4 separate regions of the Homo sapiens genome follow, and all the other regions are linked to region 4. The links come from fine-mapping of genetic effects on gene expression. A gene starts in region 4. Each other region holds a variant in brackets. All regions are shown on one strand. Distances are between the middles of the regions.

Region 1 (8,100 bases), 51 kb before region 4:
TTGCAGGCGGGAGCCACCGCGCCCAGCCAGCTTGTTTGTGCTCATGTTTCTGGAGACTGCAGATGCTTGATTACTTCTCCTTTGTGTTGAATTCCCCGTTTCCTGGATCCCAGACCTCCCTTTTCCCTTCACTGATTTACTTCTTCATTTTTGAAAAGTCTGCCCTCTGGGTGCTTCCTGAGGATGGAGGCTGACGTGTCTGCAAGTGTCTCTGTTCGGGCTTCATCCCTGACTGACAGTTTGGCTGGGCATGGAATCCTAGGATGGAAATCCAGTCCCCCAGGATCTCAAGGGCTGGCTCCATTGTCTTCTACCTTCCAGCTTGATGCTACTCAAAGCCTCAGTTCCAGGCAGCGTCCTGCTCCTATCCTGCCTGGAAAGGCACATCCCCTTGTTCTCTTTACCCTTCACCTCTGATATGGTTTGGCTGTGTCCCCACCCAAATCTTATCTTGAATCCCAGCTCCCATGATCCCCACGTGTCGTGGGAGGGACTTGGTGGGAGGTAATTGAATCATGGGGGCTGGTTTTTCCCATGCTGTTCTCATGGTAATGAATAAGTCTCACGAGATCTGATGGTTTCATAAAGGGCAGTTCGCCTGCACACGCTTTCCTTGCCTGCCTGCCACCATATGAGACATGCCTTTGCTCCTCCTTCGCTTTCTACCATGATTGTGAGGCCTCCCCAGGCATGTGAAACTGTGAGTCCATTAAACCTCTTTCCTGGCTAGGCGCGGTGGCTCACACCTGTAATCCCAGCACTTTGGGAGGCCGAGGCGGGCGGATCACGAGGTCAGGAGATCGAGACCATCCTGGCTAACGTGGTGAAACCCCGTCTCTACTAAAAATACAAAAAACTAGCCGGGCGTGGTGGCGGGCACCTGTAGTCCCAGCTACTCAGGAGGCTGAGGCAGGAGAATGGCGTGAACCCAGGAGGTGGAGCTTGCAGTGAGCCGAGATTGTGCCACTGAACTCTAGCCTGGGTGACAGAGCGAGACTCCGTTTCAAAAAAAAAAAAAAAAAAAAACCAAAAACGTCTTTCCTTTATAAATTGCCCAGTCTCAGGTATGTCTTTATTAGCGCACAAAAACAGACTAATACACCTCTCTGGCCTCCAATCCAACTCCCTCCAATCCAGCTGGCCTGTGAGGTCCCTGTCTTTCACAACCTCTCCTGCCCTTGTTCTGTCTCTGGGTGACCATCCACCTGATTGTGCACAACTGAAGCCCAGAATCTGTAAGGGGGTCTGGTGGGTAGGCCAGACATGCTGGAAACACCCACAAGCTAATCAAACACGTCCCCTTTCCAAATGTCACATCCCAACTCTGTGCTGCCTTTTCCCTCGATACCAGCGTGCGTTTTCCTGGAGAGACGGTGGAGAGTTCTATCAGAATCAGTTCGGCTGGCTGGGCATGGATCACTTGAAGCTAGGAGTTCAGGACCAGCCTGGGCAACACAGTGAGAACCCCATTCTTGACAAGAAATTTAAAAATTAGCTGGGCGAGGTGGTATGCGACTGTAGTTCCAGCTACTCAGGAGGCTGAGGCAGGAGGAGGAAGGATCACTTGAGCCCGGGAGGCAGAGGTTGCATCCTGCCCTTGCACTCCAGCCAGGGTGACAGAGTGAGGCCCCATCTCTTAAAAAAAAAAAAAAAAAAAAGAAGAGAAAAAGCAAAAAGAAAAAAAAAGCAATGGCTCACACCTGCAATCCCAGGTGTGGATCCCTTTGGGAGGCTGAGGCAGGCAGATGACATGGGTCAGGAGTTTGAGACCAGCCTGGCCAAACTGGTGAAACCATGACTCTACTAAAAATACAAAAATTAGCTGGGTGTGGTGGTGGGCGCCTATAATCCAAGCTACTCGGGAGGCTGAGGCAGGAGAATCACTTGAATGTGGAAGGCAGGGGTTGCACTGAGCTGAGATTGCTCCACTGCACTCCAGCCTGGGCAACAGAGTGCAACCCTGTCTCAAAAACAAAACAAATTAGCTGGGCATGGTGGCGGGTGCCTGTAGTCCTAGCTACTCTGGGGGCTGAGACAGGAGAATGGCATGAACCCAGGAGGCAGAGGTTGCAGTGAGCCAAGACTGTACCACCGCACTCTAGCCTGGGTGACAGAGTGAGACTCCGTCTCAAAAAAAAAAAAAAAAAAGAAAAAAAGATAAAGGGTGGGAGTCTCTGAGCCTATGTTGACTTGGGAGGCTGTCCATTAGGAAGAAAAGAGGGGGGCCGGACATGGCGACTCACGCCTGTAATCCCAGCACTTTGGGAGGCCCAGGCGGGTGGATCACGAGGTCAAGAGTTTGAGACCAATCTGACCAACATGGTGAAACCCCATCTCTACTAAAAATACAAAAATTACGCCGGGCGTGGTGGCTCACGCCTGTAATCCCAGCACTTTGAGAGGCCAAGGTGGGTGGATCACAAGGTCAGGAGATCGAGATCATCCTGGCTAACACGGTGAAACCCTGTCTCTACTAAAAAATACAAAAAGTTAGCTGGGCGTGGTGGCAGGTGCCTGTAGTCCCAGCTACTTGGGAGGCTGAGGCAGGAGAATGGTGTGAACCCAGGAGGCAGAGCTTGCAGTGAGCCGAGATTGAGCCACTGCACTCCAGCCTGGGCAACAGAGTGAGACTCTGTCTCAAAAAATATATAAATAAATAAATAAATAAATAAATAAATAAATAAATATTAGTCGGGTGTGGTGGTGTGCGCTTATAATCCCAGCTACTCGGGAGGCTGAGGCAGGAAGATCGCTTGAACCCGGGAGGCGGAGCTTGCAGTGAGCTGAGATCACGCTATTGTACTCCAGCCTGGGCGACAGAGCAAGACTCTGTCTCAAAAAAAAAAAAGAAAGAAAGAAAAAGGGGTTATTATTAATAATATAGAACACGCTCGCAGAATATAGAAAGAACCACCACCCAATAGGAAGATGAATTTCACATAATAAATGACCCCAAACACCTCCCACCTCAGAAGCAGAAAGGGGCCAACTCTTCCTCTCTCTGCCCCTTTCAGAGCGCGGCTCAGCCCGTTGGGTGCTTCTGCTGCAGCCTTGGATTAGGAGGGACTATGAGGTGGGGACAGCAATGACAGCCATCTGGCCAGGCCAATACATCCTGCCTGGCTGGGCTTTCAGCTCCCACCATTGCCCCTAGCTGGTCAGCAAGGTCCTGCCCGCCTCCTGGCTGTGGGGCTGCACATGTCAGATTCCCTTCCCATGTCTGGGGAGCTCCCACCTGAGGATCTTGCTGGAA[A/G]GTCCTTGCCTGGGCTGTGCCAATCCAAGGCCCTGCCCTGCTCTTGAACAAACAGCCACAGGCTAGGAGCAGGGCCACAAGATGGAGGCTGCAATGACGGCAGTGATCGGGGTGGGGTCGTCGTGGGAGGTTTTTTTTTTTTACAAATATAAAAACATTATATATATTGGGGGTATGTATATTACACGTATTATCCTTTTAAAAAGTTTTATTGTGAAATATTTATCCATGAGTACATATAACATAGATGTCCAGTTTTTCAAGTTACAAAAAGCAGACAGCCCTCCCTTTTTTTTTTTTTTTTTGAGACAGAGTCTCGCTCTGTCACCCAGGCTGTAGTCCAGTGGTGCAATCTCAGCTCACTGCAACCTCACCTCCTGGGTTCAAGCGATTCTTCTGCCTCAGCCTCCCCAGTAGCTGGGATTACAGGCGCACACCACCATGCCCGGCTAATTTTTGTATTTTTAGTAGAGACGGGGTTTTGCCTTGTTGGCCAGGCTGGTCTCGAACTCCTGACCTTGTGATCCGCCTGCCTCGGCCTCCCAAAGTGCTGGGATTACAAGCGTGAGCCACTGCGCCTGGCCAAAAGCAGACACCCTTGGAACCACCTCCCAGAACAAGAAGTGGAACATTTCAAGTAAAAAAAATTACACCTGCCCTATGACCCAGCAACCCCACTTCCGGAAATACAAGCAAAATCATGCCCAGGGGTCTTCGTGGCAGCTTGCTCTGCAATGGCAAACACCACACCAAACCAGGAGGAGCTAGCCTGTGCCGACACCTGCACACACGGCTGCCCCAAAGTCCCACACCCAGGGGTGGGATGCTGGAGATGAAGGTCCTGCCAGTGTCACGTGCTGCTTAGTGACAGGGTTGAGGGGCCTTAGTCGGCTTGACTCAAGGTGGCCTCACTGTGGCCTTTTGTATAAAAAAATCTTCAAGTGCTCATTGTTCCCTGAGTGACTCACTTGAGGTAACAGCCTACATACATGACCATAAATGTGGCCAAACATCCCACTCAGAAATATTCATCATAAGCCAGGCGTGGTGGCATACACCTGTAATCCCAGCTACTCAGGAGGCTGAGGTAGGAGAATCCCATGAGCCCATGACCGCACCCCTGCACACCAGCCTGGGTGACAGATGGAGATCCTGTCTCAAAAAAAACACATCAATGTTTGTATAGCTAAAAAGAAAGAAATTTAAATGTCCAATAATGGATAAATAAACTTGATAGTCATTAGAATGACTACAGCAATCAGTGAAAATTTTCAATCATGTGAAAAATGCTTATGTTAAGTCAGGAAACTTCAGAAAACACTGTAATCTGAGCTACTCTGGAGGCTGAGGTGGGAGGATCCTTTGAGCTCAGGAGCTCGAGGCTGCAGTGAGCCATGATTGTGCCACTGTACTCCAGCCTGAGTGACAGAGCAAGACCATCTCCTAAAAACACAAAAATGTTTAAATGCAGAAAACAAAATTGTTTGTAGAATACAATTATAAGGATGCACAAAATAAAAAGACTACAAGACAGGACGGACGTCTCTCCAAATGTTACAAAAAATTAAAGAGAGCTGCAGGCGGGGAGGAGGGAGGAATCTGTCTCCCCCTGGGACTACTCTGGCTCACCGCCCCTCCCTGACTGCTCCTTTGGCCCTTATCATCTCCAGAGGCAAGTTCAGGTAGATCTGAATTTTGTCACACACGCTGTCCTGTAAGCCCAGAAGTCCCCTGGGCACTGCTCTCGCCTCCCAGGCCCAGACAGTACCTAGAACTGGGTTCTCTCTGGGGCAAGGGCATCCCATTTATCCCCCTCCTAGACTGTGTCCCCTTCAAAAAGGCTGCAACAGTGAACTCTGCGTTTATGCTCACCTCCCCCAACCTCCCATCTCTTTCTGAGTTAACAGAGAGGCCAACAGCTGGTCCTCCAGTCCCCAAGCTGAAGCTGGGCAGCTCTTGGGCACATAGGCATGGTGGCAGCTATGCCAGGGCTCCATCCCATGCCTTCTTCAGCTGAGCACCTCTTCCTGGGGCCCCAGAGGGAACACAGCCCCTGGCTGATGGCACAGGGTCAGGGTCCTACCCTCGAGGAGCCAGAAGACGGGGGTGAGGGGCTGGTTGAAGAGGGCATGGAAGGTGTACAGGGGCTGGGTCTGGGGCTCCAGGCTGTAGAAGGTGAGGCAGCCTGAGGCCAGGTCCAAATCCATGCCCAGGAGCCGCCCTGACACCCCTGGGAGGCGCTGGGCTTCCCCGTTGTGCCAGGCCTGGAGGCTGTCCTCCTGGACGCAGAGCCCCCAGGAGCAGGGTCCCCGGCCAATGTTGTCTGTGTGGGGCCCCAGCCTGCACCGTGGCAGTTGCGGGTAGGAGACGCCCAGTGTCACCGAGTGGTCTGACGCGCGCACCTCCCAGTAGTGGTGCCCGGCCTGGAAGCTCTGGGCACATTGCACCTGCCAGAGCTCAAAGCTGCCGGGCCCGCCTGGGCCCCGGGACTGACGACAGTGCTTCACCTGCTGGTCCTGGCGCGACAGATAGAAGTGACGGTTGGCGCTGACTGGATCAAAGGTCAGATTGCGATAATCTGTTGGGGAAAGGAGGACAGCAGTGGGCTGGGGGAAGACAGCACAACCAGATCTCCATTTATCCGCTGCTAAACCTCCGCCAGGCACGCTGAGCACCGGCCGTCACCATAGCACTTAATCCTCGCCACGACCTCGCAGGCGGAATCCTCTATCAGCCCCGTTCACAGCTGAGAAAACTGGGGCTCTGAGAGCCATTAACTCAGTGTTAAGTGGAAGAATTACGGGTCTGTGCCCCAGACTCTGTCCTTCAACGCACACTGGCTGCGTCTGCTTCAGGGTGGATGTGCACGAGGTGTGCAGCGGGTGGGACCAGGCTCAGATGTCCCGGCAGGACAGTCAAAACAAGTGCCCCCCTCACTCACACGTGCATACGAACATGCACACACACACGTGCTCACAGCACACACAGGCACTTCCTTGCACACGCACACACAGGGGCACACATACACGAACGGCCTCCTTACTCTGCCAGAGTTTCCTCCTCAGTGGACAAACTGTGCTTGGGACCGGTGCCAGGGGACCTGGGGCCTCTAGGGGGCAAAGCAGTGTTAAGGGAATGGTTGGAGAGGTCACGATGTGTGGGCCCTGACCCGCCTCCACCCCCCCAGCGGGAGGGGCAGCTGGACCCAGGACAGCAGGGGGAGGCCTGGGGTCAGTCTTACCCACGGGGGCTAAGTCCACAGGCTTGGCTGGTGCCCCAGGGTGGCTCCCCTCTTCCAAGAGGAGGCCACACAGCCGGCTTAGCAACTGCTTCAGGTCACCCAGCTGTTGGTCTTCATCCCACTGCAGAGGGGTCAGTGGCCCAAGAGGCCCTGGGGGCTGGAGGAGCTGCGATTCCTGAGCCCCAGGGAGAACAAGTAAGCCTGGGCCTGAGGGGCAGGGAAGCAAGTCCGCCACCTATGCCCTGAGCCCTCGCACCTGCAGGAAGGTCTGCTCATCCACCTGCTCCAGGAGCTCCCGGATCCTGCAGCCATGGCGAGCCACAGCCTCCAAATGGACCCGCAGCCGCTGCTCCTCGTCTCGAGCCTGTGCCAGCGCCTGCGTCTTGGCCACCTCGATGCTCCTCAGTGCTGTCGTGTGCTGTATTTCCAGGGCCTGTAGCAGGCTGCTGAACTTGCCGGAGACCCAGGAGGCCAAGATGCAGGCCGAGTTCTGGGCGGGAACAGGAGGGGCTTCAGGGTGGCCAGGGCCCTGTGCCATACCAAGGGAGGCTAGGGCCAGGGCTGCCTGCTGGGCTGAGGGTCAGGGATGTGGGGAGGCAGGGTCCCGGGAACCTCCCCAGGACCCCTGTGCCCAGCTCCCTGCTCAGCCCCGCTCCCTGCTGCCTGGTGTTCCAGGGACCAGCTGGTGGCCGCCCCAGGATGCAGTGTGAGGCCATGGTGGGCGGGCAGGCACAGGCCTCGTACCTGGATCTGGCTGCTTTGCTTGCGCAGCTCTAGTAGCTGGCCTTCGGCCTGGGTGGCCTGCTGCTGGGTAACCTCCAGGCTGGCTCTCAGCTGGGCCTGTGGTGCGGGCCCACGGGACAAGCAACAAGAGAAGGCCAGGATTGGCTGTGATGTCCTTTCTCAGACAACCAACCATGCCTGCAGACACCAGGCAGCCCCTCCCCACGCCACCCCAGGCCAGCCTCCAGAGCACCGGCCTCGGTCTAACCCAGGGAGAGTTGGGGCCGTGCCCCGGGGGGGTCCAGACAAAGTCCTTCCTAATCTGCAGCAGGGTGGTGCCTGAGCAGAGCGGAAGCCTTGGGCTCAGGACCCAACTTCCATTCCCATTTCTACCTCTTGCATGCTGAGCAAGCTGAGGCCAAGCACCTGTCCTCTCTGGGCCTAACCCCCCACCCATCAATACAGGAAAGCGATAATGCTGGCTCAGGAGGCCTCGCAGGGAGGACCCCAAACACTAAAGCCGTTGGTCCCTGTCTCACTGCAGAGGGGTCAGTGGCCCAGGAGGCCCTGGGGCTTGAGAAGCTGACTGCAGGGACCTCCCAAAGCACCAAAGCTGTCTGACAAGTGGGCAGTTACTTGCTGGATAAACTAGATTCTTCTGGGGATCCGGCCAGTCCCTGGCCCTAGTTTTGAGACTGAGAGGGGAGGAAGGGACCCCTATTCGGTTGCGCTCCCTGAGTCCCTTGGGAATCAAAACACCGTGCTCTCATGAGAGCAGGACAAACCACGCAGGTCCCAGGGGCTCCATTCCCAGCACCTGGTCAAAAGCTTCACCACCTTGTTTCTGCTCCTCCCGCAATGCACTGAGATGGGGACCATTACT
Region 2 (8,100 bases), 29 kb before region 4:
CACTGCAAGCTCCGCTTCCCAGGTTCATGCCATTTTCCTGCCTCAGCCTCCCAAGTAGCTGGGACTACAGGCGCCCGCCACCACGCCCGGCTAATTTTTTGTATTTTTAGTAGAGACGGGGTTTCACCGTGTTAGCCAGGATGGTCTCGATCTCCTGACCTCGTGATCCGCCCGCCTCGGCCTCCCAAAGTGCTGGGATTACAGGCGTGAGCCACTGCGCCCGGCACCTGCACCAGTATGTTTTACCCATTACATTCCACCAATATTTCTTTTTCTTTTTTTTCTTTTTTTTTTTTTTTAGACAAAATCTCACTCTGTCACCCAGGCTGAAGGGCAGTGACACAATCTCGGCTCACTGCAACCTCTCCCTCCTGGGTTCAAGCGATTCTCCTGCCTCAGCCTCCCAAGTAGCTGGGACTACAGGCCACACGCCACCACGCCCGGCTAATTTTTGTATTTTCAGTAGAGACGGGGTTTCACCACGTTGGTCAGGCTGGTCTCGAACTCCTGACCTCAGGTAATCCACCCACCTTGGCCTGCCAAAATGCTGGGATTACAGACGTGAGCCACCGCGCCCGGCCGCAATATTTCTCTCTCTAAAAGGAACTGAATGAAGCACTTGGGTTATGATCTTGTTTACAATTTTGAAGGAAAAAAAGAGCTGCAGCTACACAACACTCATTTCTGTACTCAGCCCTCTCCAGTGTCTGTGGCCTGGGAGAAGGCTGAAGGGGATAATTAGGATGCCTGCCACACCCTCATGGCGGTGACAGGAATGCTGAGTGCTTACACTGAGTAAAGTGCCATTATAACTGAGTGCCTGTGGAATGTCTCTGCTTGGCTGTCCCCCCGGCACTGTATACTCATCTGTGACACCACCCAGTCACCCAAGCCAGGAACCTGGGCGTCCTCAACACGTCTTCCTTTCTGATCCTCCATGACTGGCACTAGGCCCGAGGGCCACTTTTCTGTGGGCCCTCCCTGCCATGCCCGGTAGTCTTGCCCACAGTCCCTCCCCTGCACCATTGCCAGCTGCCTTCCCACACATCCTCTGTCCCACTCTTGCCCCCTCTGGTCCGGTCCCCACCCTGCAGACACAATGGGTTTTCTTTTGTTGTTGTTTTTTTTTTGAGACGGAGTCTTGCTCTCTCGCCTAGGCTGGAGTGCAGTGGTGCAATCTCGGCTCTCTGCAACCTGTGCCTCCCGGGTTCAAGCGATCCTCCTGCCTCAGCCTCCTAAGTAGCTGGGATTACAGGCACACACCACCATGCCCAGCTAGTTTTTTTGTATTTTTAGTAGAAACAGAGTTTCACCATGTTGGCCAGGCTGGTTTTGAACTCCTGATTTCAAGTGATCCACCCACCTTGGCCTCCCAAAGTGTTAGGACTACAGGCGTGAACCACCGTGCCTGGCCAATGGGTTTTCTAAAATACAAATATGGTTCAACCTTGTTTAAAATCTTCTAGTGAAGACCTGAAAATTTGCCCTCAGACAAATTTGCCCTGAAAAGTTGCACGTCTTTAACAAGATATGCAAAGCCCTCTCATTCTAACCTCTTCTCCCTACTCTGTCTTGAAGGCCATGCTCTCCCCCTGTGGGTCTCCCAGCACCGCCCTCCCCGATGTATGTGCTTGATCACCTGCAGGTCCTGCAGGTGGCTGCCTAGATACCAGCTGCCCCTGGGCCGACGTGCCCATCCTTAGACCCCCCCAGCTCTTTGCACAGGTCTGCCTCAGGACTGGTTGAGTCTCTTTTGTGGAGAATCAAATTTGAGACTTAACCAAGGCTTCCAATGGGGCATGTGATACTTCCCTCCTCAGTGTTGGTACCAGCCCCAGAAGCGCCTGAAAAGATCTTCCTCCCACACCAGCACCTACCAGGAGTGTAGCCTGCTCCTCTGGGAGGTAGGAGAGCGGGGTGGCTGACAGCGTGGAGCTTGGGGATTGGCCAGAGCAGAACTCAAATCCAGGCGCAGCTACTCACTGTCATTTCAGGCAGGTTATTTAATCTCCCCGGGCCTCAGTTTCTGCATGTTTGAAGCAGGGCTAATAGTACCCTTCTCCTGGCTGTGGTCCAGCTGCCAGGTGCCACCGCAGACCGCAGGTGCTGGAGGGGAGAGGCACGTGGCCAGAGGCGCCTGGTCCTGACCAATCTTATAGGCTGATCTTTTAATAAGAACATCTGCCTGTTCTTTGGGACTTGTCCAGCAAATAACAGGAAACATTTTCTAAGAAATAAGTATAAACTCCGATGAGCCATGGCAAAAGCAGTTTTTTTAAGCTTAGTCAAGTTGAAGCAGCGGGAGTGGAGGAGGATCAGAGAAACCTCTGTAGTTGTGATTGGTTCCTTGTCGCCTCCACTGCGTACCCGCTGAGCTGGGCTTTGGGCAGGTGAGCAGCACAGAGGCTTCCCTCCTCGTCCCTCCCCACACCCCACCATCGCCACAGCTCCCTCCGCCGCCGGTGGGGCACCCAGATGGGGAGGAAGCTGAGGAGGCCACTGTTCACCCAAACTGGTTGGTCCTTCGGGCAATGCTGGGAATAGGGTGGGGGCTCTGGGCAAGCCCAGGAGGAGGAGGGCCTGGCTGAGTTCCAGGAACATCTCACACCACAAGGGAGGATCTAGCTGGTGCCCTCCCTGTACTGTCAGGAGGCCAGAGGGCCCTTCTCCAGCTCATCAGGGAGGGAACTGCTCTGGCAGGGAGTAGGGAAGGCTGTTTGTGGCATCCCTCAAGAAAGCTCCTGCCTCAGAAGAGGCCCAGGCAAAAAGAGCCCACAACAGTCTACCTGTGGAGCAGGGGGAGCCCACAGAGCCCAGGGGGAGCCCACAGAGCCCAGTGAGAGCTGGGGGTCCTTGCTGCCAACTCAGACCCTCAGATCCAAGCCAATGGCTTTGGGGCAGGGCAGCCAAAGCCATGGTAAGATAGCCTACACCACAGAGCCCCAGAGGCAGGGGCTGCCCCGGGCTGGCACATTTGGAAAGGATGCACTTGCACCCTGTCCACGGAAGAGCTGTCATCAGGCCTCAAGCATCTCAGAATCCTCCCCAGGCACTGCCTCCATGGAGGCAGCCGGAGGAACAGGACAGTTCTGGGGTCCGAACCCTCTGTTGGGGAATCGGCTGGGGTCCCACTCAGGCTGAATGAGATGTCAAATTGTAGGACCCTTTCTTCAGGGTCTCCAGGAAGAACTGTTCATTCTCCAAGAAGTCACGGTCCTGCAAGGCAGGTTTGGATGGGCGGTCACCTTCCCTGAGCTGAGAGGGAGGTGGAGCCCTGGATGCTAGCTGAGCCAGCCGTCACTGAGGCCCCTCCCCACATCGTCCCTGACTCTGCCTGGCTCTGGGAGTCAGCAGGGGCCATGAAAGAGCCCAGGTATGGAGTGAGACAGACCACAGTCTCAATCCTGGCAAGGTTACTTGTTTGCTGTGGAACTTACGAGCACATGACTTCATGTCTCTAAGCCTCAGTTTCCTTGTCTGTAAACATTCCTTGTAGCCCTTCCTTGCAGGGCTGTGTGAGGGTAAAAGCTTAAAAAATACACAAAGCAGGCCAGGCACAGTGGCTCATGCCTGTAATCCTAGCTAATCCGCAGGCCAAGGGGGTAGGATCACTTGAGCCCAGGACTTTGAGACCAGCCGAGGCAACATCGTGAGACCCCATTTCTAAATATAAATAAATAAGTAAAATATAAACAAAGCCTTCGGCATTGAGGTTGGCACACAGGAAATGCTCCATAATGACAACTGTTATCATTATAGTTTTGTTTTGTTTAGTTTGAGACAAGTGCCTTGCTCTGTCACCCAAGCTGAAGTGCAGTGGTGTGAACACACCTGTAGCCTCGACCAGCTGGGCTCAAGCAATCCTCCCACCTCAGCCTCCCAAGTAGCTGGGACTATAGATATGCCCCACCATGCCCAGCTAATTTTTAAATTTTTAATATTTATTTTTTTGAGACAGAGTCTCGCTCTGTTGCCTGGAGTGCAGTGGCACCGTTGTGGCTCACTGCAGCCTCGACCTCCCGGGCTTAAGTGATCCTCTTACCTCAGCCTCCGGAGTAGCTGGGAGTACAGGTGTATGCCACCACGCTCAGCTATTTTTTTGTGGAGACGAGGTCTCACTATGTTGCCCAAGCTGGCCACGAACTCCTGGGCTCAAGTAATCCTCCCACCATAGCCTCCCAAAGTGCTGGGATTACAGGTGTGAGCCACGCACCTGGTCCTCTTTTTTTAGTTTTTCATTTTGTAGAGACGG[T/G]GTCTCAACATATTGCCCAGGCTGGTCTCAAACTCCTGGGCTCAAGTGATCCTCCTGCTTCAACCTCCCAAAGTGTTGGGATTACAGGTGTGAGCCACTGTGCCCAGCCTGTTATCATTATTGCTATAGGTTATCATGAGGTTTAACTGAGATGACATATGCAAATTGCTTTGCACAGAACCTGGCCTAGTGTGGAAGTCTGAGCATTGGCTCACTAAGCAAACTGCAGTTTTACTCCCCAGGAGCTGGGGTCACCCCTCCCCAGGGCTACCATGTGCTCCTCCCTGCCTCTGCCCTGAGCTGGAAGGACTCGTGAACACAAGGATCCCCAAGGCCAGGAGAGACTCACCTGCTCTGCCATGTGCCTCAGCAGTGCCAGCCTGGCATGGAGGTGCAAGGGGCTGGGGTCCAGGCCAGTTGGCGGCTGGCTGCACCAACGGGTGGTGGGAGCAGGAGGCATGAGGGCTGAAAAGGCCAAGGAGGAAGTCAGGGACCAAAGTGTTGGTGGAAATACCGGGCGGTCACAGCTTGTTCCTGCAGAGCTGCTCCCCCCGCCAGTGGGTGGACCCTGGCCATATACTCAGGGTGCAATGGCACTAACTCTCAGAAGCCTCTGGCAAATGCATACCTGCTCCTACCTGGAAAGACCATTTATAGGAATTTATTCCAGTGAAATAATCAGGCAAAGGTACAAACACATATGTAGGAAGATGTCCACTGGGTAGTCTTTCTCTTTAAGACAACAAATCACTCAGCACAGAGCAGCCTCACAGTGGAAAACTGTGCTGATTGGGAATTGACTAAATGTTTAATGACTGATCTGAAAACCTGTTCCACGTGTACATTACTGAGTAAAAAAAGTAAAGTTATTGAAAAACACATACAATCCTAATTTTGTTTTTAAAAACATGTACCAGGCTGGGCGCGTTGGCTCATGCCTGTAATCCCAGCACTTTGGGAGGCCAAGGCGGGTGGATCACCTGAGGTCAGGAGTTCAAGACCAGCCCGGCCAACATGGCAAAACCCTATCTCTGCTAAAAATACAGAATTAGCCAGGCATGGTAGCACATGCCTGTAATCGCAGCTACTTGGGAGGCTGAGGTAAGAGAATCGCGTGAACTCAGGAGGTGGAGGTTGCACTAAGCCGAGATCATGCCACTGCACTCCAGCCTGGGTGACAAGAGTGAAACTCCATCTCAAAAAAGAAAAGAAAAAAAAAGTACCAGAGTGGAACATTATGCACCAAAATGTTAAAAGTGAAAAGTGGTTCTCTCAAGACTCAGGAGTGGCGTTGAGGGTGACTTTTTTTTTTTTTTTTTTTTTTTAAACGGAGTCTTGCTCTGTCCCCTAGGCTGGAGTGCAGTGGCACAATCTCGGCTTACTGCAACCTCCACTTCTCGGGTTCGAGTGACTCTCCTGCCTCAGCCTCCTGAGTAGCTGGGATTACGGGCACCTGCCACCACACCCGGCTAATTTTGTATTTTTAGCAGAGACGGGGTTTCATTATGTTGGCCAGGCTGGTCTTGAACTCCTGACCTCAGATGATCCGCCTGCCTCGGCTGCCGAAAGTGCTGAGATTATAGGCGTGAGCCACCACGCCCAGCCTGACAATGACTTTTTTTATTTCCTTTTTTTTTCCTGAGTCCAGAGTTACAAAAAGGTGACATTTTTCATAATAGTGTTCCTCTATTTCTGATTTATCTAAAATTAACACACATTATTTGTGTAAAAAAGAAATAAGGCGACTATAAAACCCAGCTGGCCGCCTTAACTGGAGCGGCTGGAGGAGGGCCTGCCCACTCCTAGCACTGCCCCTGCCCAGTCCTGAGCCGCCGGCCCTTCCTTCTGGAGCCACTCACCACTCTGGCTGGAGGCTGCAGGGCCCTGGGCCCTGGGGAACAGACCCACGAGGCTAGAGGGCAGGTCCTGTCGTGCGCGGTCCAGTTGCAGCCTCTGCTGGGCCAGACTCAGATGCTCCTGTCCCCGTTCCCCCAGAAAGAAGGACTCAGCTGTGAGGTGGGAGGCTGGGGGTGCCGGGGGCAGGGGCGCCATACACTCAGGGAGCCTTGCCTGGTGCATGTGCTGCTCCTGCTTCCGCAGCCGCTCCTGCTGTTGCTGCACCGCCTGCAACCGGGCCTGCTGCTCTGCCTGCACCTGCTGGGCCTCGCGCAATGCCCGCTCCCCCTCCTCGTACTTCTCGGAGGCCACCTGCAGGGAGGCCGCCTGGGTCAGGGCTGCCTGGGCTCAGATGCGCCCACGCCCATGTGCCCGAGCAGCACCTTGCTCATGCTCTCCACCTCCTCGGCGCGGAGCTTGACACGCAGGGCGGTGGCGTTGATCCTCTCCTTCTCCAGCCGCAGCTCCTGCCGCTCCTGCTCCAGGGCTGCTCTCTCCGCTGCCAGCTGCTTCTCCTCGGCCCGGAGCTCGCTGGCCCTGATCTTCAGCTCAGCCTGCTCCTGGAGACAGCGGAGGCCCTGCTGCATTCTCCTCCCAGGAATTGCGCTGCACTCTGTGCAGGACTCTAGGGTCCCCTCTGCCCACCCTGCCCCTGGGAGGAGGTGGTGGAGCCAGGGGCTTCCAGGGAGAGCCAGAGAAGCCTGGGGCCAAGCCGGAGTGCTGCCCTCACAAGCCACGTGACTGTGGCAGGCTCAACTCTGAAGTTCGGTTTCCTCATTTCTAAATGACCAAAGTCATGGGAACATGAGGATCAAATAAAATGTGTATAATGCACCTGGGACAATACGAGGAAGATGTTAGCATGATGATGCGATTACTGTTTTAATCCCTATGCTCTTGTGACATTAGTGCTACACTCTCCTTTCCTAAGACTGGAAGCGGATGTGTCCAGATGGAGGGGCGCAGGCAACCCTGGGCCCTCCACTGTCCGGAGGCTCTGGGCCCTACCTTGGCCAGGCTGATGAGGGTGCCCTCCCGCTGGGTGTCCACCTGCAATGCCCGCTCGGCCTCGCGCTCGGCCCGCTCCTTACTCAGCTTTTGCTGCGCGGAGAACTCCGCCCACTCGGCAGCCAGGCGCCGCCGCTCCTCCCCGCACTTGAGCATGACAGACTTCTGCTCCTCCAGCAAGGCGCTCTGGGATGTGGGGGTGAAGGCACGGGGTGAGTGTCCCTGGGCATAATGGCAGGGGCAGGGGCTGAGTGCGGTGGCTTGACTCACCTTGGCCCGTTCCAGCTCCGCCCTTTCCATGGCCATCTGCTGGGCCGTGACCTTCCTTTGCTCCTCTAGGGCGCGCTGCATGGACTCCGCCTTGGACTGCTCGGCAGTCACCCGCCAGCGTTCCTGTAGGGCCCAGGGCAGGACTGAGAGCGTGGTTCCCGCCCTGAGGATCACGCCTGGCCACTCCCTGAGAAGCTGCATGAACCCACCAGTGTCTCCCACACTATGCCACTGACACGTCCTTCCCAAAGAGGCACAAAATGAGGGGTGCCTGGGAGGCACTGCCAGGGCCCAGCCCGCACGATTCTGCCCAAGAGAAGGACCCAGCAGGTGCCCTCCCAACCCTCAGGTCTCCAACAGCACCAAGGCTAGCAGCTTGGGAGGGCCAAAGAGCAGCAACATCCCTGCCGCTGAATCGCCAGCTACGCACTCTGCCTGTCCTCACCCATCAGCCAAGCAGGCTAAGCACAGGGTGGCTTAATGCTGTGCTGTGGGCCCAGCCACACACAGCACAAGGCGAGAGCTTCACTGTGCCTGACCCCAGGCAGATGCTTAACACAGTTACCAAATGAAGAGGCGAATCAAAATGCTTCACAACATAAAAGCATCTCTATCTACGTTGACATGGCTACAGGATAGATATCAGGTCAGCAGTGGACATCTCTGACTAGTGG
Region 3 (8,100 bases), 170 kb before region 4:
TTTGAGACCAGCCTGGCCAACATGGTGAAACCCCAGTCTCTACTAGAACTATAAAAAATGTGCCAGGCGTAGTGGCGGGCGCCTGTAGTCCCAGCTACTCGGGAGGCTGAGGCAGGAGAATCACTTGAACCCGGGAGGCAGAGGTTACAGTGAGCTGAGATCGCACCATTGCACTCCAGCATGGGTGACAAGACCGAAACTCTGTGTCCAAAAAAAAAACACGGCAAATGGGCTGGGCGCAGTGGCTCATGCCTATAATCCCAACACTTTGGGAGGCCAAGGCAGGAGGACCACTTGAGGCCAGAGTTCAGGATCAGCCTGGGCAACACTGCAAGACCGTCTTTACAAAGATAAAAATTAGCCGGGCATGGTGGCACACCTGTAATCTCAGCTACTTGGAAGGCTGAGCTGGGAGGATCCCTTGAGCTCAAGAGTTCAAGTTTGCAGTAAGCTATGATCACACCACTACACTCCAGCTTGGGCAACAGAATGAGACCCTGCCTCTTAAAAAAAAGGGGGTGGGGGGGGAAAGTGATGATATATTACATATACTCAGCTTTGAAGACAGATGTGGAAAAATACTGAAAGGAAACGTGAAAATGTCAGCAGTGGCTATCTCTGGGTAGTGGCCTTATAGCTTATTATTTTCTACTTTGTACTTTTCTACATTTTCCACAATGGAAACATGATTTTTCTGATTAGATAAGACCATTTTAGGATTTCAAGCAGCCCTGCTGAGATTGGAACCCTGGGTGCGCAGTGTTTGAAGGGACTGGGGAGAGCATGGCAGAAGGCCCTGGAGATCGGGGTCCCAGGCAGGGTCAAGGCCACACTGAGGCGCCAGCAGGGAGCACAGCCGCCTCCAGGATAGAGCACCCTGGCAGTTCTCACCCTCTAGCTCTTCCAGTTGTACCTCCCGGAGGCTTTCCTTGCCCAGCGCCCGGGCCACTTCTTCACATTGGCGCCGCCGCACAGGGTACTCGCTGGAGGCCAGGGAGTGGCGGACATTAGAGTTGGTGATGAGCACGGCCAGCTTGGGGTCCGAGAGTGGCACCAGGCTGGTCTCCAAGGACCTGGGGTGGAGTTACAATGGGGGAGATGACGAGGCCAAGCGTGTGCTTGCTGCGCCAGGCAGTGGGCACACTCCCACCCAGGAGCTGCTGAGTGCAGGGCGGGAGGGGACGAGGGGAGCGAGCCCAACCTGCAGTCAATGAGCAGCGCGTGGCCTTTCTGTCCCATAAGTGAGATGAACTGGTCCATGATGCCACAGGGCATCCCTGCGAAGCTGTGCTCGGCCTGCTGACACACCTGGGCGCGGGCAGCTATTGTGCCCGAGTCTGCAGTACAGGGTGAGGTGGGGAGGCTAGGGCTGGTGGAAGCAGCAGTGGCTTCAATGACACTCCAGGGAGAGTCCCTGCCACCCCCTCCATAAGGCATAGTAGAAGCTGGGACCACCTGGAGACCTCAGGGAAGGAGGGCTGGGTCAGGGCTGGGGCCTAGCTGGTACCTGGACAGAGCTGCTGGAGGAAGGTGTACGTGGCCACTTCCAAGGATGCTGAGCTGGACAGGCCACCCCCCAGGGGCACTGAGCTGACCACCACTGCACTGAAGCCAGGGAGGGGGGCAGCTGCAGGGGAAAGAACAGGTGATGGTAAGAGGGGCTGCCTGGGAGGATGGCACAGGAAGGGCAGGTGTCCTGGCGGGAAGGGCAGCAACGGCCTAGCAGCTGTTTCTAGGGTGTGTGTCTCAATTGTCAGAAGCCACCAACCTGCTGGGCCAAGGGACCCACTGCCCTCCATTTTCCCACCCTCTGAGGTTGCTGGGACACTTCTAATTGTCCTCCTGGTTTAGGGCTCTGGAGGGAAAAAAGGCTGGGGTTCAAATCCTGGCTCCTCCAATCAGGTCACGGGAAACCCAGGGCAAGTTCCCGACCTTCTGGGGGCATCAGTTTCCTCATCTGTACAATGGGATGCTCCACTCTACAAGCCTTCCCCACAGTGTATCAGACAAATGAATGGGCTCTGTGGCTGTGAGGTGGCACTCCTAGTATCAGTGAGGACTTGGCTCAGGCCTGGGCCCCATACCTGGGTAGTACTGAATCACTCCCTTGACATAGTTGGCCCACCGAGGAGTCCCAGGCTCCAGCGAGCGCTGGGCTGTGGGCAGTGGAAACTGCAGCCGCTGGGGCTCATCGGCACCCTCAGAGGTGGTGAGGAGAGACACCAGCCCATCCTTGCGGGGGCTGCCCACCAGCACCGTCATGAGCTCCAGAGCCTGGCAGGAGAGACAAGCAGTACGTGAGGCTTCCGCCAGCTGGAGTAAGCCTCTCCAATGACACTGCCTCCAGCCGAGGTTCTGATGCCTCCACAGTCATCAGGTTCTGAACCTCCAGGTTCAGCGTCGCAGGGAAGATCCTGAGGGCCAGCTGACCTTGGGGGCTTGAGCCCTGCCCCCTTAGGTCTTCAGGGGCGGGGCGGCTGCAGCTGGAGCACAGACCTGGACTCTGCCCTGAGCTGTGGGGCAAGGGGGAGAGCTAGCCCAAAGGGAAAACAGATCACTGGAGCTCCAAAGCCTTTACATTTTGGGGTGGCTCTGGACATCCTGTACCTGTGCACTCCCCAAGCTGCAGATGGGGCGGAAAGCGCCCCCCGCTGAAAGCTGGGAGTCCTCACTCCCAAGTCGCAGCCCCGCCAAGAACCTGCTGTGTGACCTCCAGCAGTTCACTGGGCCTCTCTAGGCCTCAGTTTCCTCCTCTGTAAATTGAACGGGCTGGGCCAGAAGGCTACGTTCGCCCAGGTCTGCGGTTGGGGCCCCACGGTGGCCGGAGGCGCGGAGTGTCCCCTTCTGCGTGGCACACAGGGCCTCACAGTTTAAGGGGAACATGCTCCCAGGTTGAAGGCGAGGAGCCCCAGCCCCCAGAGGGCGGGCTTGAGCCAAGAGGCGGCCGCGCACCCTCTCCCGGCCACTTCCTCGCTTCCTCCCTTCCAACGTGGGGAACAGCCTGTCCCGGGGACTCTTCCGTGCACCGGTGCTCCAGGCGCAGCTGCCCGCCCCACATCTCCCGCGGGAAGAACTCGCCCCCAGCGTCCCCGAGGCCCGCCCTCCTCGGCGGCCGGGACAGGCGGCGGCGGGCTAGGGGCTCCCCGTGCAGCCCCTCACCATAGGCAGCACCAGGCCCTGGTTGTAGTCCGTGTGTTCCCCGATGAGGTTGACGCGGCCCGGCGCTGACACGGCCAGCTCGGGCTCGGCCCCGAACTCCTCCCGGAAGGCTCGCCGGGCCTCGGCCAGCAGCTCCGCGACCTGGGGCTGTCTCAAAGCAGCCATGACGCGCGCCTGCAGCTCTGCACAGCTGCTCCGGCACAGCCCCGTCGGCGCGGGATGCTCGGGCGGGGCCCCGCGCGGGGGTGCGCACATTCCCGCCAGCCCCGCCCCGCGCCCGGACGCCCCGCCCCCAGACCTCAGCCGGTTCCGCCCCCACCCGCAACTCCCGTGGGAATCCAGCTGCTGGGTGGTGGGTGGCAGGGGCTAATGGTGCCGGGTGGGATACAGCGCCCCCGATGGTGTCCTTCCCTCTGGACTTCGGGAAGAACCAATGAGCACTCACTAGAGTGAGAATAGCCCTGAGTGGCACTTGGCATGACCAGGATTTCTGAGCTGCCCTTCCCTGGCGCTGGTGACTTTCTATGTGCCTCACCACCCACCACCACCCACACAGCCAGAGCAATGGAGCTGGCACCCGGTTGACCTGGGATTCCCAAAGGGATCCCCTAGGTCCCCAGGGCCAGCAGCTGTGAGAGGTCATCAGCCTCTGATCACCGGTCTCCAAGAGGGTGACCTGACACTCACTGTAAGTAGAGATAAAGACAGACAAGTTTGGGCCGGGCGCAGTGGCTCACGCCTGTAATCCCAGCACTTTGGGAGGCCGAGGTGTGCAGATCACCTGAGGTCGGGAGTTGGAGACCAGCCTGACCAACATGGAGAAACCCCATCTCTACTAAAAAATACAAAATTAGCTGGGCATGGTGGCTCATGCCTGTAATCCCAGCTACTCGGGAGGCTGAGGCAGGAGAATCACTTGAACCTGGGAGGCGGAGGTTTCGGTGAGCTGAGATCACACCATTGCACTCCAGCCTGGGCAACAAGAGCAAAACTCTGTCTCAAAAAAAAAAAAGACAAGTTTGGTGGTGACCAGAGAGTCAATTTTACAAGCTCCTTTTCTAGGTAATACGCAACAGCTCCTAGCAATGGAGAATTGGACTAGGGTGGCGGTGGCCAGCAGTGGGCCCAGCCCCTCCCTTAAGGACCTGCCACAGCTGTCCAGGTAGGTTGTGCTGTTGGCCCCAGCAGGCACTACTTCAGCCCAGAAGCCCTTGTCTCAGAGGCGTGGCCTTGTTCCCAGTCAGGCACTCTTCTCTTGCTATCCTGCATCCTAAACCTGCTGGCCGGCCCCAACTGCTGCCTTGATACCTGTCCACAGCTGCCCACCCTACATGGAACCTTGAAACTGAAAGACTGAAATGTAAGCAGCTTGCTTGGGGTTAGGGTGGGAGTAGTGTGGGGAGTTATGGCCAGGGATTTAGCTTGGGGCCTGCTCAGGGGTGTGCCCAAAGAG[T/C]GGGGAACTGCATTCCAAGGGCAATTCTGAAAACTCTTAGAAGAAAACATAGGGGTACAGTTTTGTGACATTGGTTAGGAAATGTTTATTTGGTTTCTGTTTTTGAGACGGAGTTTCGCTCTCGTTGTCCAAGCTGGAGTGCAATGGCGTGATCTCAGCTTACTGCAACCTCTGCCTCCCGGGTTCAAGCGATTCTCCTGCCTCAGCCTCCGGAGTAGCTGGGATTACAGGCACGTGCCACCATGCCCGGCTAATTTTTTGTATTTTTAGTGGAGACTGGGGTTTCACCAGGTTAGCCAGGCTGGTCTCAAACTCCTGACCTCAGGTGATCCACCCACCTTGGCCTCCCAAAGTGCTGGGATTACAGGCGTTAGCCACCACACCTAGTCATGTTTTTTTATTTTTATTTATTTACGTATTTATTTATTTTAGACAGATCTTGCTCTGTTACCCAGGCTGGAGTGCAGTGGCGCGATCTTGGCTCACTGCAACCTCCGCCTCCCAGGTTCAAGCGATTCTCCTGCCTCAGCCTCCCCAGTAACTGGGATTACAGGCACCCTCCACCATGCCTGGATAATTTTTGTAAAAGCAGGGTTTCACCATGTTGGCCAGGCTGCTCTTGAACTCCTGACCTCAAGTGATTTGCCTGCCTCAGCCTCCCAAAGTGCTGGGATACAGGTGTGAGCCAATGCGGCCAGGCAATGGTTTTTTAGATATGACATCAAAAGCACAAGTGACAACAGAAAAATAAACTGTACTTCATCAAAGTGAAATATTTTTCTGCAACAAAGAACTGTCACGCGTGTCCGTGTGAACAGACCACCAAACAGGCTTTGTGTGAGCAACAAGGCTGTTTATTTCACCTGGGTGCAGGCGGGCTGAGTCTGAAAAGAGTAAGCAAAGGGTGGTGGGATTATCATTAGTTCTTATAGGTTTTGGGATAGGTGGTGGAGTTAGGAGCAATGTTTTGCGGGCAGGGATGGATCTCACAAAGTACATTCTCAAGGGTGGGGAGAATTACAAAGAACCTTCTTAAGGGTGGGGGAGATTACAAAGTACATTGATCAGTTAGGTTGGGGCAGGAACAAATCACAGTGGTGGAATGTCATCAGTTAAGGCTATTTTCACTTCTTTTGTGGATATTCAGTTGCTTCAGGCCATCTGGATGTATACGTGCAGGTCACGGGGGCTATGATGGCTTAGCTTGGGCTCAGAGGCCTGACAAGAACATTGTCAAGAAAGTGAAAAGACAACTCACAGAATGGAAGAAAGTACTTGCAAATCATGTATATCTCAGGGGCTTGGAGTTTGAGACCAACTTGGGCAACGTGGGAAGACCTCACTGCTACAAAAAAAAAAAAAAAAATTAGCCAGGTTGGGTGGCACACACCTGTGGTCCCAGCTACTCAGAAGGTGAGAGACCCTGTGTCAAAGAAGAAAAAAAAAAAGCAAAAGATTTCAAGAGACATTTTTCCAAATAATATAAATACAAATGGCCAATAAGCACATGAAAAGATGCTCAAATGTCAGATGTGGTGGTTCATGCCTGTGATCCCAGACTTTGGGAGACCGAGGTAGGCGGATCACTTGAGAGCAGGAGTTCAAGACCAGACCAGCCTGGCCAACATGGTGAAACCCCATCTCTACTGAAAACACAAAAATTAGCCAGGCATGGTGGCGCACATGTGTAATGCCAGCTTACTCGGGAGGCTGAGACACAAGAATCACTTGAACCCGGGGGGTGGAGTTTGCAGTGAACCGAGATCTCGTCACTGCACTCCAGCCTAGGTGACATAGTGAGACTTGGTCTCGGGAAAAAAAAACAAGTGATGTATCTATACAATAGAAATATTAATCCATAAAAAGAAATGAAGTACTGATACGTGTAACAACATGGATGGAGCCTTCAAGAAAAAAATTAGCTGGGCGTGGTGGCGGGCACCTGTAGTCCCAGCTACTCGGGAGGCTGAGGCAGGAGAATGGCGTGAACCTGGGAGGCGGAGCTTGCAGTGAGCAGAGATCGTGCCACTGCACTCCAGCCCAGGTGACAGCGCAAAACTCCGTCTCAAAAAAAAAAAAAAAAGAATGAACTTTGAAAATATTATGGTGAGTGAAGGAAGCCAGTCACACAAGACCACCTGTTGTATATCCAGAATCGGCAAATCTCTACAGATGGAAAGTTAATTAGCGGTTGCTTAGGCCTGAGGGAATAGCAGGGTCAGAGCCAAAGGATGGCAGGTTTCTCTGTGGTAAGGAAAATGTTCTAAAATGGACTGTGGTGATGGTTGCACATGCCTGTGAATATCCTAAACTGTTGAATTTTATGTTTTAAATGGGTGAATTATATGGTATGTATTATATCTCAATAAAGCTGTTAAGAAAAGAATGGGGCCCAGGTGTGGTGGCTCACGCCTGTAATCCCAACACTGGGAGGCTGAGGTGGGCAAATCGCTTGAGACCAGGAGTTCAAGACCAGCCTGGGCAACAAAGGGAGACCTCATCTCTCCAAAAAAATCAAAAATTAGCCGGGCACGGTGGCTCATGCATGTAATCCCAGCACTTTGGGAGGCCGAGGCGGGTGGATCACTTGAGGTCAGGAGTTCAAGACCAGCCCGGCCAACATAGTGAAACCCCATCTTTACTAAAAAATAGAAAAATTAGCCCGGTGTGGTGGTACAAGCCTGTAATCCCAGCTACTCAGGAGACTGAGGCAGGAGAATCGCTTGAACCCAGGGGGCGGAGGTTGCGGTGAGCCGAGATCACACCACTGCATTCCAGCCTGGACAACAGACTGAGACTCCGTCTCAAAAAAAAAAAAAAAATCAAAAATTAGTCAGGCTTGGTGGTGTGTGCCTGTGGTCCCGACTACTTGGGAGGCTGAGGCAGGAGGATCACCTGAGCCCAGAGGTTGAAGGTGCAGTGAGCCGAGATCACGCCACTGCACTCCAGCCCAAGCAATTCCAGATGTCATCGGATGACCTGCTCCTTTTGAGCACACTTCAGTAAAGCATTTTTTGGCACAGCCAACACCAAACAAATCATACCATGAGTGGCCCTTGGGCTGGTTGAAATGGAATGAAACTCACAAACCATACCTCCCTACAAGGGCCCATTCTATCAGGGCAGAGGTGAGCGAAGCAGCCCCTTCTCTGCATGCCTTTTACTCACCTCACCTCTGACACCCAACAGTGCTGAGCCCTCATCTCCACTCTTCCTATTATATGATCTCAGGTAAATGAAGTGACCTTTCTGGGCCTCAGTTTCTTATGTGTAAAATGGGGCTAGAGATTGCTCCCAGACATGCTGTTGTAAAAGGAACTGAATGAGATCATCTTCATAAAGTGCCCAGCCCAGCAGCTGGCACTTGGTACGCACAGAATAAATGTTTGCTATTCTTATCAGTTGTCCATTAATTCAACAGGCATTATGGTACTCTCCTATATGCAATTGGCCAGAAAGATAAATGCCTCAGGCTCTCACGGTCTGAT
Region 4 (8,081 bases):
GAGCCGAGATCGCACCACTGCACTCCAGCCTGGGCGACAGAGCGATACGCCGTCTCAAAAAACAACAAAAAGACCCCCCCCAAAATTAGCTGGGCCTGGTGGCGCATGCTTGTAATCCCAGCTACTGGAGAGGATGAGGCAGGAGAATTGCTTGAACCTGGGAGGCAGAGGTTGCAGTGAGCCGAGATCGCGCCACTGCATTCCAGCCTGGGTGACAGAGCAAGACGCCGTCTCAAAAACAAACAAACAAACAAAACCAAAACAAAAATTAGCCGGGCATGGTGACACATGCCTGTAATCCCAATTACTGGGGAGGCTGAGGCAGAAGAATTGCTTGAAACTGGGAGGCAGAGGTTGCAGTGACCTGAGATCACGCCATTGCACTCTACCCCGGGCAACAGAGCAAGACTCCGTCTTAAAAAAAAAAACAAAAAAACACAACTATCTGAAAGGATGATGGTGCAGATTTTCAGCAGAACCTATATTCTACCTGCCTACCATGACACACTGGCCAAAGATCAGTCTTCCAGACCCTGAACACAGCCCAGTGCAGCTCGCTGGGAAGAGTGCCCAAGATTTCTAGGCACATGGAGGCTACTTTCAGACAAGTAGGCTCCTTGTACCCTTCCATCTAAGACCCCCCAGAACTGGTCTGGATGTCCTCATCAATGGCCACTTTCTGATGGAGGCATGTGGGGGAACCTAAGTATGAATATCGAATTCGTTTCCCCACACCAGCTTTCCCACCCTGAATCCCAACCACATATTTCTGGATACAGAGCCCAAGGAGGAGGATTTTTTCCAAAACCTCATATCTTATTTACGTCTGAACTTCTCTGAGGACCAGTGAGGCAACATAAGGAAGACCAAGGCTGCCTACGGAATAATGGGAAGAACAGCAAGACTGATCAAAAACATTTTTTTTTTTTTTGAGACGGAGTCTCACTCTGTTGCCCAGGCTGGAGTGCAGTGGTGAGATCTCGGCTCACTGCAAGCTCCGCCTCCTGTGTTCACACCATTCTCCTGCCTCAGCCTCCCGAGTAGCTGGGACTACAGGCACCCGCCACCACGCCCGGCTAATTTTTTGTATTTTTAGCAGAGACGGGGTTTCATCGTGTTAGCCAGGATGGTCTCGATCTCCTGACCTCATGATCCACCCACCTCGGCCTCCCAAAGCGCTGGGATTACAGGTGTGAGCCACCGTGCCCGGCCCAAAAACATTTAAATAAACACATCTCATTGTTCCAGGACCAAAGGGGAAAAAGATATATATTTGGCTTAAGAGTAATGTTCCATCTCTCCACTCACCTTTACATCCTTTCTTGGTTTTTGGTGCCTAAAATGGGAAAAACAAATCACATCAAGAAAACCAAACAGTGAACACAGGTGGAAATTGGCAATGCAGAATGAATTGCGTTGCCTTTTGCCAAGTAACCAGAGGCAAGAGCACCAATGGCATTTAGAGATGTAAGTCCTTTATGTGTTCCTATAGTTTCTGAGAACGGACTCATTCAGAGCGTGGAAACAGCCCTGCTAACCAGCGATGGGTGCCAATGGGCGGGCAGGTCACTCCTTTCCCAGACACGACATGCAAACCCTCCCAGCCGAGATGTCATGTGACCGGAAATGTCTTCTATTCCGTGCCCCTGACTCCTCAATACCAGTGACAGACACTTAAAAACGCTTCCAGCTGGACACTCAGAGTCTCAGAAGAAACCTTGGTCGTCGAAAGTTTGGTATCAATGCCACCTCCTGTCACTCTTCTCCAGGGTCTCCATCCTGGTCCTTGCCGCCCAGCCCCCAGAGTGTTGCATGCAGTCAAGATCTTTGGGGATGCAGGATGGGAGGCATGTTCGCTTTCCATGCATCTTACTCTGAACTCTGCCTACCATCTCACGGCTCTCGGGGGTGCTCTCAGCTCCTTCACAGCACTGGCCAGCTCATCTGGATTCTGCCCACATCAGGCTCATACTCCCTAATGAAGAAAATTAAAGTGGTTGCTTAAAAATGATGTAGCTTTGGCTGGGCGCCATGGCTCACGCCTGTTAATCCCAGCACTTTCAGAGGCCAAGGCGGGGGGATCACCTGAGGTCAGGAATTCAAGACCAGCCTGGCCAACATGGTGAAACCCTGTCTCTACTAAAAACAAAAATTAGCTGGGTGTGGTGGTGTACATCTGTAATCCCGCAGCAGGAGGCTGAGGCAAGAGACTCGTTTGAACCGGGGAGGTGGAAGCTGCAGTGAGCCAAGACCGCGCCACTGCACTCCAACCTAGGCAACAGAGTGAGACTCCATCTCAAAAAAAAAAAAAAAAAAAAAAGAGACCGGGCGCGATGGCTCATGCCTGTAATCCCAAAACTCTTTGGGAGGCCGAGGCAGGTGGACTACCTGAGGTCAGGGGTTCGTGACCAGCTTGGCCAACATGGTAAAACCCCACCTCTACTAAAAAATACAAAAAATTAGCTGGGTGTGGTGGCAGGCACCTGTAATCCCAGCTACTTGGCAGGCTGAGGCAGGAGAATCGCTTGAACCCGCTAGACGGAGGTTGCAGTGAGCTGAGATCATGCTATGCATTCTAGCCTGGGCAACAGAGCAAGACTCCATCTCAAAAAAAAAAAAAGATGTAGGTTTAACAGCATGAATCCAAGGGTTATCAAAGTTCTCTCACTTTGCCCATTCAAGAGGTAAAGCCCATTTCCATAAATTAAAAATTCCTTATAGGGGATGCACTTCAGAAGAGGAGCAAAGTACTCTCAGGCTGGGCGCGGTGGCTCACACCTGTTATCCCAGCACTTTGGGAGGCTGAGGTGGGCAGATCATTTGAGGTCAGGAGTTCAAGACCAGCCTGACCAACATGGTGAAACCCCATTTCTACTAAAAATACAAAAATTAGCTGGGCATGGTGGCATATGCCTGTAATCTCAGCTACTCAGGAGGCTGAGGCAGGAGACTAGGTTGAACCTAGGAGGAGAAGGTTGCAGTGAGCCGAGATCGCCCCACTGCACTCCAGCCTGGGCAACATGCGAGACTCTGTCTCCAAAAAAAAAAAAAAAAAAAAAACGTGCTCTGGATAACTTAATGGGCTTTCTGAGGCTTTGAGATTACTTGAAAAAAGGGCAGTGGCCATCATCCCTTACCCTGAAAGCCGATGCAGCAAGTGGCAAGTACTCATTTCAGAAAGGAGGTGGGTGCCTGGCACCAAGGCTGAAACCCTTTCCCAGGCAACACCCATGACTACTTTCTAGGCAGCATTTAGCACAAAAGCAGGTATGAACTCTGGTTACTCTTTGATATTCTTTTTCTTTTTAAAATTTTTTTTTTCGAGACGGGGTCTCACTGTGTTACTCAGGTTGGTATTGAACTCTGGGGCTCAAGCAATCCTCCTGCGTTGGTCTTCCAAAGTGCTGGGATTACAGGTGTGAGCCACCACGTCCAGCAACACGATTTTCACTGACAGTGGAAATATTTCCCTTTACATAGGCAGTAAATCTGACCCATTGAGAACATTTTCCTCGGAATTAGCTGTCTCCCTCCCCCTCCTCCACTTTACCAAAACCCACCTACAGGATGTCCTGGAAGAAAGGAGTCAGAGGGGTCCTCTTTATGTCCCAAGTATTGGCCTGTCCTGTTATTGGAATGCAAGGGTTATCTGGGCTTACCTACAGAGCCCACCCTGAATACATGTGTTTTCTTTTTTTTCTTTTTTTAGACGGAGTCTTGCTCTGTTGCCCAGGATGGAGTGCAGTGGTGCGATCTTGGCTCACCACAACCTCAGCCTCCCGGGTTCAAGCGAATCTCCTGCCTCAGCCTCCCGAGTAGCTGGGAATACAGGCACATGCCACCATGCCCGGTTAATTTTTGTATTTTTAGTAGAGACGGGGTTTCACTGTTGGCCAGGAGGTCTCGAACTCCTGACCTCGTGATCTGCCCGTCTCGGCCTCCCAAAGTGCTAGGATTACAGGTGTGAGCCACCACGCCTGGCCTTCTTTCTTTTTTTTTTTTCCAGACAGGGTCTCGCTCTGTTGCCCAGGCTGGAGTGCAGTGGCACGATCACAGCTCTCATAGCTTACTGCAGCCTCGACCTCCTTGGGCTCAGGCGATCCTCCAATGTCAGCCTCCCTAGCAGCTGGGACCACAGGCACACGCCACCATGTGCGGCAAATTTTAAAATTTTTTTTGTAGAGACGGGGGTCTCCCTATGTTGCCCAGGGTCGTCCCAGACGCCTGGCCTCAAGTGATCCTCCCGCCTTGGCCTCCCAAAGTGTCGGGATTACAGGCGTGAGCCACCGTGCCCGGCCTTGTTTCTTTTTCTCTGCAATGGCGACTTCACGACCTACAAGTCCAAATGTGTCCCATAACACATCAAGGAACTTCTGGCATCTCCTATCGATCCTGTACGGGCTTCTCAGACTATGGGGATTTTCTAGGCTTGGTTTGCCAAGGCCAAAGGGCTACAGAGTAACCCCGTCCCCACATGTATTCAGCCGACTCCATGCCAGGCGTTTTACAGATCCCGAGACCACCCCTAAGCAAGACCCCTAGCCGGAGTCGCCCCTCCGTCCCGAGACTCCGCGCCCCTCAATGCGTCACCCTTCTGAGCGCCCGGCCTATCTGGCCCCGGAGCGCAGCCTGTAACGCTCTCAGCCCCGGAAGCCTCCTGTTACGCGCCGTGCCCCCGGAGGTGCGGCCGCTGGGACCAGCGCCGGCCCTGGCTCCATTCGGGTCGCCCAGCCCGGCCAGGACTGGCCTCCCGCTTCCAGCCGCTGCCGGCACCCTCAGCCGTCTGGCCTCCCGCGGAAAGGCGGGCGCGAGGCATCCTGGGAGTCGCAGTCGGCGGTCGACTCACCCGCCCTCACAGAGGAGGTGGGGACGCCATGAAGAACTACAGCTCCCAGGGAGCCGCGCGCGGCAGTTGGCGGGGCCGGGCTTCTGCCGGCGGCGGGCACGTTGCTAGGAGCTGCCCCAACGCCTCTCCGGGAAGAGGGCGCCAGGCTCAAAGGCCCTCTTGGGAACTGCCGGGAAGCTTAAAAGTTCCTCCTGCCCACTTCTGAGGGCTGACACGTGGCCGACGCGGAGGCGTGAGAAATGTGTTGATATTGGGAGGTTGACGGGTGAATCCACAAATTCACCGGTGTTTATTCCACACCCCAAAGCTTGAGGGAAGTGACTGACCTGTTTAATGATCCAATCAAAGCTGTATAGCCAGAATGAAACCCAATACTGTCGCCCCACAAAAAGATTAAGTCACATTTTTTCTAGTATGTGCTAATTATGAATTTTATTAAGGTTTATTCAATGTCACAGAGGAAAGAACGGTTTGTAGTTTTGCTTACCCGCAGTGCTGGCAGGTCACAGCTGTCCAACCATGATCCATTCACATGCTCTGGCCCCGTGCCCCTCGTCCTCCCACCCCTACCCCACAGGACACCATTAAGCCAGGGCTGGGTAACAACATATGCTCAATGCATCTTCTCAGGTGAGAACCAAACTCGAGCCACAACAGCAAAGGGGGAAAAAGGTAGCAAAGTAATTATGTGCTCCCAAGGCAGTCATTTAGTTGAATCCATAACTGGAAATAAAAAGGCATTTATGAAGTGTAGTCCGCAGTCTGAATGTGGAAGGTGGAAGATCACACATTTACTAAGAAACACTCAAAACATATTTTGGTTCAGAATTCTAAAAAATCCCGAATTTTCCATGATCTTCCCAAGACAACCAATGACCCACTTAAATTTAAGGCAAAAACACCCTTGAATCTAGGAATGTGCACATATGCAACAGCTAACATCTGGTAACTCTAATAATGTTCCTTATATGTTTCTGTGTTTACTATCATGAACCATAGGAAGAAGTACTGGAAAATTTAGTAAGTGTGGACAGTTAAAAACACTGGCCCGGCACGGTGGCTCACGCCTGTAATCCCAGCACTTTGGGAGGCCGAGGTGGGTGGATCACGAGGTCAGGAGTTCAAGACCAGCCTGGCCAACTTGGTGAAACCCCTGTCTCTACTAAAAATACAAAAAAACTAGACAGGCATGGTGGCAGGCGCTGTAATCCCAGCTTCTCAGGAGGCTGAGGCAGAGAATTGCTTGAACCCGGGAGGCAGAGGTTGCAGTGAGCCAAGATTTCGCCACTGCACTCTACCCTGGGTGAAAGAGCAAGACAACGTCTCAAAAAAAAAAAAAAAAAAAAAAGCAAAACCCCACCATCAATATTTTAAAATAAAAAGTCGTTTTAGTCAATTACAGTGTGACTTGTTCTAATCCTCCAAGAATGGAGTAGTAAAGAAACAGCAGAAATGACTTCCCTGCATTATTTCATGAAAATGATCAAAACCTTTATCTAAGTCAGAACATCAACAAGACTCTTGGTCTCAGGTCATCAGTTTCCTGGCACTCCTCCTCTCTCTAGCTGTAGTAGCAGCTACTGCTTGAAGACAACCTATATATCCCAGGCATACCCTCTACACGTATAAAAAGATGTGCAGGTGTTACAGACCACCTACACCTAATTCACTTCCTTTCTAATAAGATGGATGGAATAACTCGGAAAAGGGAAAGGAGGGATTTTGAGCCGCAGTTGTCTAAAGAATTATTGATTCACAGGGATCTCCAAGATCATGCATTTGAAGAGTTTTATTTCTCCACCCAAAGCCCTGCAGTGAAGAAAATCCAAGAATTAAGATGTAACATGTTGGCTGGGTGAGGTGGCTTGTGGCTTATGCCTGTAATCCCAGCACTTTGGGAAGTGTGGGGGGAGTGGGAGTGCAGATCACCTGGCCAACATGGTGAAACTCCATCTCTGCTCAAAATACAAAAATTAGCCGAGCGTGATGGCAGGTGCCTGTAATCCCAGCTACTCAGGAGGCTGAGGTGGGAGAATCGCTCGAACCCGGGAGGTGAAGATTGCAGTGAAGTCGAGATCGCACCATTGCATTCCCGCCTGGGAGACTCCATCTCAAAAAAAAAAAAAAAAAAATTAACATGTTGGCCCAGTGCAGTAGCTCACTCCTGTAATCCCAACCCTTTGGGAGGCCTGAGGTGGGAGGGTCACCTGAGGCTAGGAGTTCATGACGGGCCCAAGGCAACATAGCCATACCCTATTTCCAAAAATAAAAAAAAATAAAAAATTAGCCAGGTGTGGTGGTGTGCACCAGTAATCCCAGCTTCTCAGAGGAGGCCAAAGCAGGAGGATCACTTGAGCCCAGGAGTTGGTGGCCAAAGTGTGCTACAATCACACCACTGCATTCCAGCCTGGGTGAGAGTGAGACCCTCATGGGGTGGAAAAAAAAGATCTAACATGTTAACTTTAGGAACTATAAAATGCCTTCAGGTGTATGTGATCTGAAATTACAAGTGGTGACTTCTCAGAAAGCATATGAACACGGTGAATGTTGTAATGTTCTGAAGATAAGCTGATACTTAGTAGTGATATGTTCTAAAGACAAGAACATGAGGGCCCCAAAGCCTGTGTCATCAACTCTGCTTTGAGGTCACTAATTTTTAAATACAGAGCATAAAGTAGAACTCCAAACACTTGGGCAAGAAGAAAATCCATTGCAAATAGCCAACACATTTCTATTAAACCTCACATTTTCAATTTTGTATTTGGTTGAGAGTACTTTTTAAAAAAAGGCTTAAATCAATATTATCTAACACACACAAAAAATCTCATTAATTCTCCTCACTCTGGGCCAGATGCTGTGGCTCACACCTATAATCTCAGCACTTTGGGAGGCTGAGGCGAAATGATCGCTTGAGCCCAGGAGTCTGAGACCAGCCTGGGCAACATGGCAAAACCCCGTCTCTACAGAAAAAATAGAACAAATTAGCTGGGCATGGTGGCACGTGCCTGTCGTCCCAGCTACTCAGGAGACTGAGGAGGGAGGACCATTTGAACCCGGGAGGCAGAGGTCACAGTAAGCCAAGATCCCACCACTGCACTCCAGTCTGGGTGACAGTGATACCCTGTCTCAAAAAGATAAAAATAAAATTCCTACTCAGTAATTTTGGAGAAGACAAGGTTAAAATGTATCTTTGTACTTGTGAAAATGGCTTACAAAATTTTGAATCCAACAGACC

What was found. PIP is the estimated chance that this variant, and not a neighbour inherited with it, causes the effect.
Region 1: its variant is fine-mapped to the expression of FBF1 in lung (TOPMed, PIP above 0.99).
Region 2: its variant is fine-mapped to the expression of FBF1 in whole blood (TOPMed, PIP above 0.99).
Region 3: its variant is fine-mapped to the expression of FBF1 in whole blood (TOPMed, PIP above 0.99). The same link has a PIP of 0.9 or more in blood mononuclear cells.

What each region holds. Positions count from the first base shown.
Region 1 is chr17:75,885,517-75,893,616 of GRCh38, forward strand. It overlaps TRIM65 (tripartite motif containing 65), which reads right to left. Exons shown (of 6, transcript NM_173547.4): 2 at 7,239-7,334; 3 at 6,751-6,984; 4 at 6,495-6,669; 5 at 6,297-6,362; 6 at 3,447-5,831. The coding sequence ends at 5,263. Among named protein-coding and RNA genes, the nearest start is that of TRIM65, 7.4 kb to the right of the region's middle. The variant A/G (reference allele first, on the strand shown) is at 3,254.
Region 2 is chr17:75,907,591-75,915,690 of GRCh38, forward strand. It overlaps FBF1 (Fas binding factor 1), which reads right to left. Exons shown (of 30, transcript NM_001319193.2): 24 at 7,427-7,549; 25 at 7,157-7,342; 26 at 6,532-6,708; 27 at 6,323-6,460; 28 at 6,112-6,229; 29 at 4,602-4,717; 30 at 1,984-3,216. The coding sequence ends at 3,133. Among named protein-coding and RNA genes, the nearest start is that of MRPL38, 6.8 kb to the left of the region's middle. RefSeq lists a silencer at 3,273-3,433 and an enhancer at 7,338-7,632. The variant T/G (reference allele first, on the strand shown) is at 4,253.
Region 3 is chr17:75,761,813-75,769,912 of GRCh38, forward strand. GALK1 (galactokinase 1) reads right to left here and starts at 3,380. Exons shown (of 8, transcript NM_000154.2): 1 at 3,160-3,380; 2 at 2,085-2,274; 3 at 1,508-1,627; 4 at 1,202-1,337; 5 at 892-1,073. The coding sequence starts at 3,324. RefSeq lists enhancers at 2,395-2,604, 2,635-2,864 and silencers at 2,975-3,124, 3,355-3,544. The variant T/C (reference allele first, on the strand shown) is at 4,613.
Region 4 is chr17:75,936,258-75,944,338 of GRCh38, forward strand. It overlaps FBF1 (Fas binding factor 1), which reads right to left and starts at 4,785. Exons shown (of 30, transcript NM_001319193.2): 1 at 4,591-4,785; 2 at 1,890-1,975; 3 at 1,309-1,336. The coding sequence starts at 1,892. ACOX1 (acyl-CoA oxidase 1) reads right to left here. Exons shown (of 14, transcript NM_004035.7): 14 at 5,250-8,081. RefSeq lists a silencer at 4,554-4,823 and an enhancer at 4,934-5,003.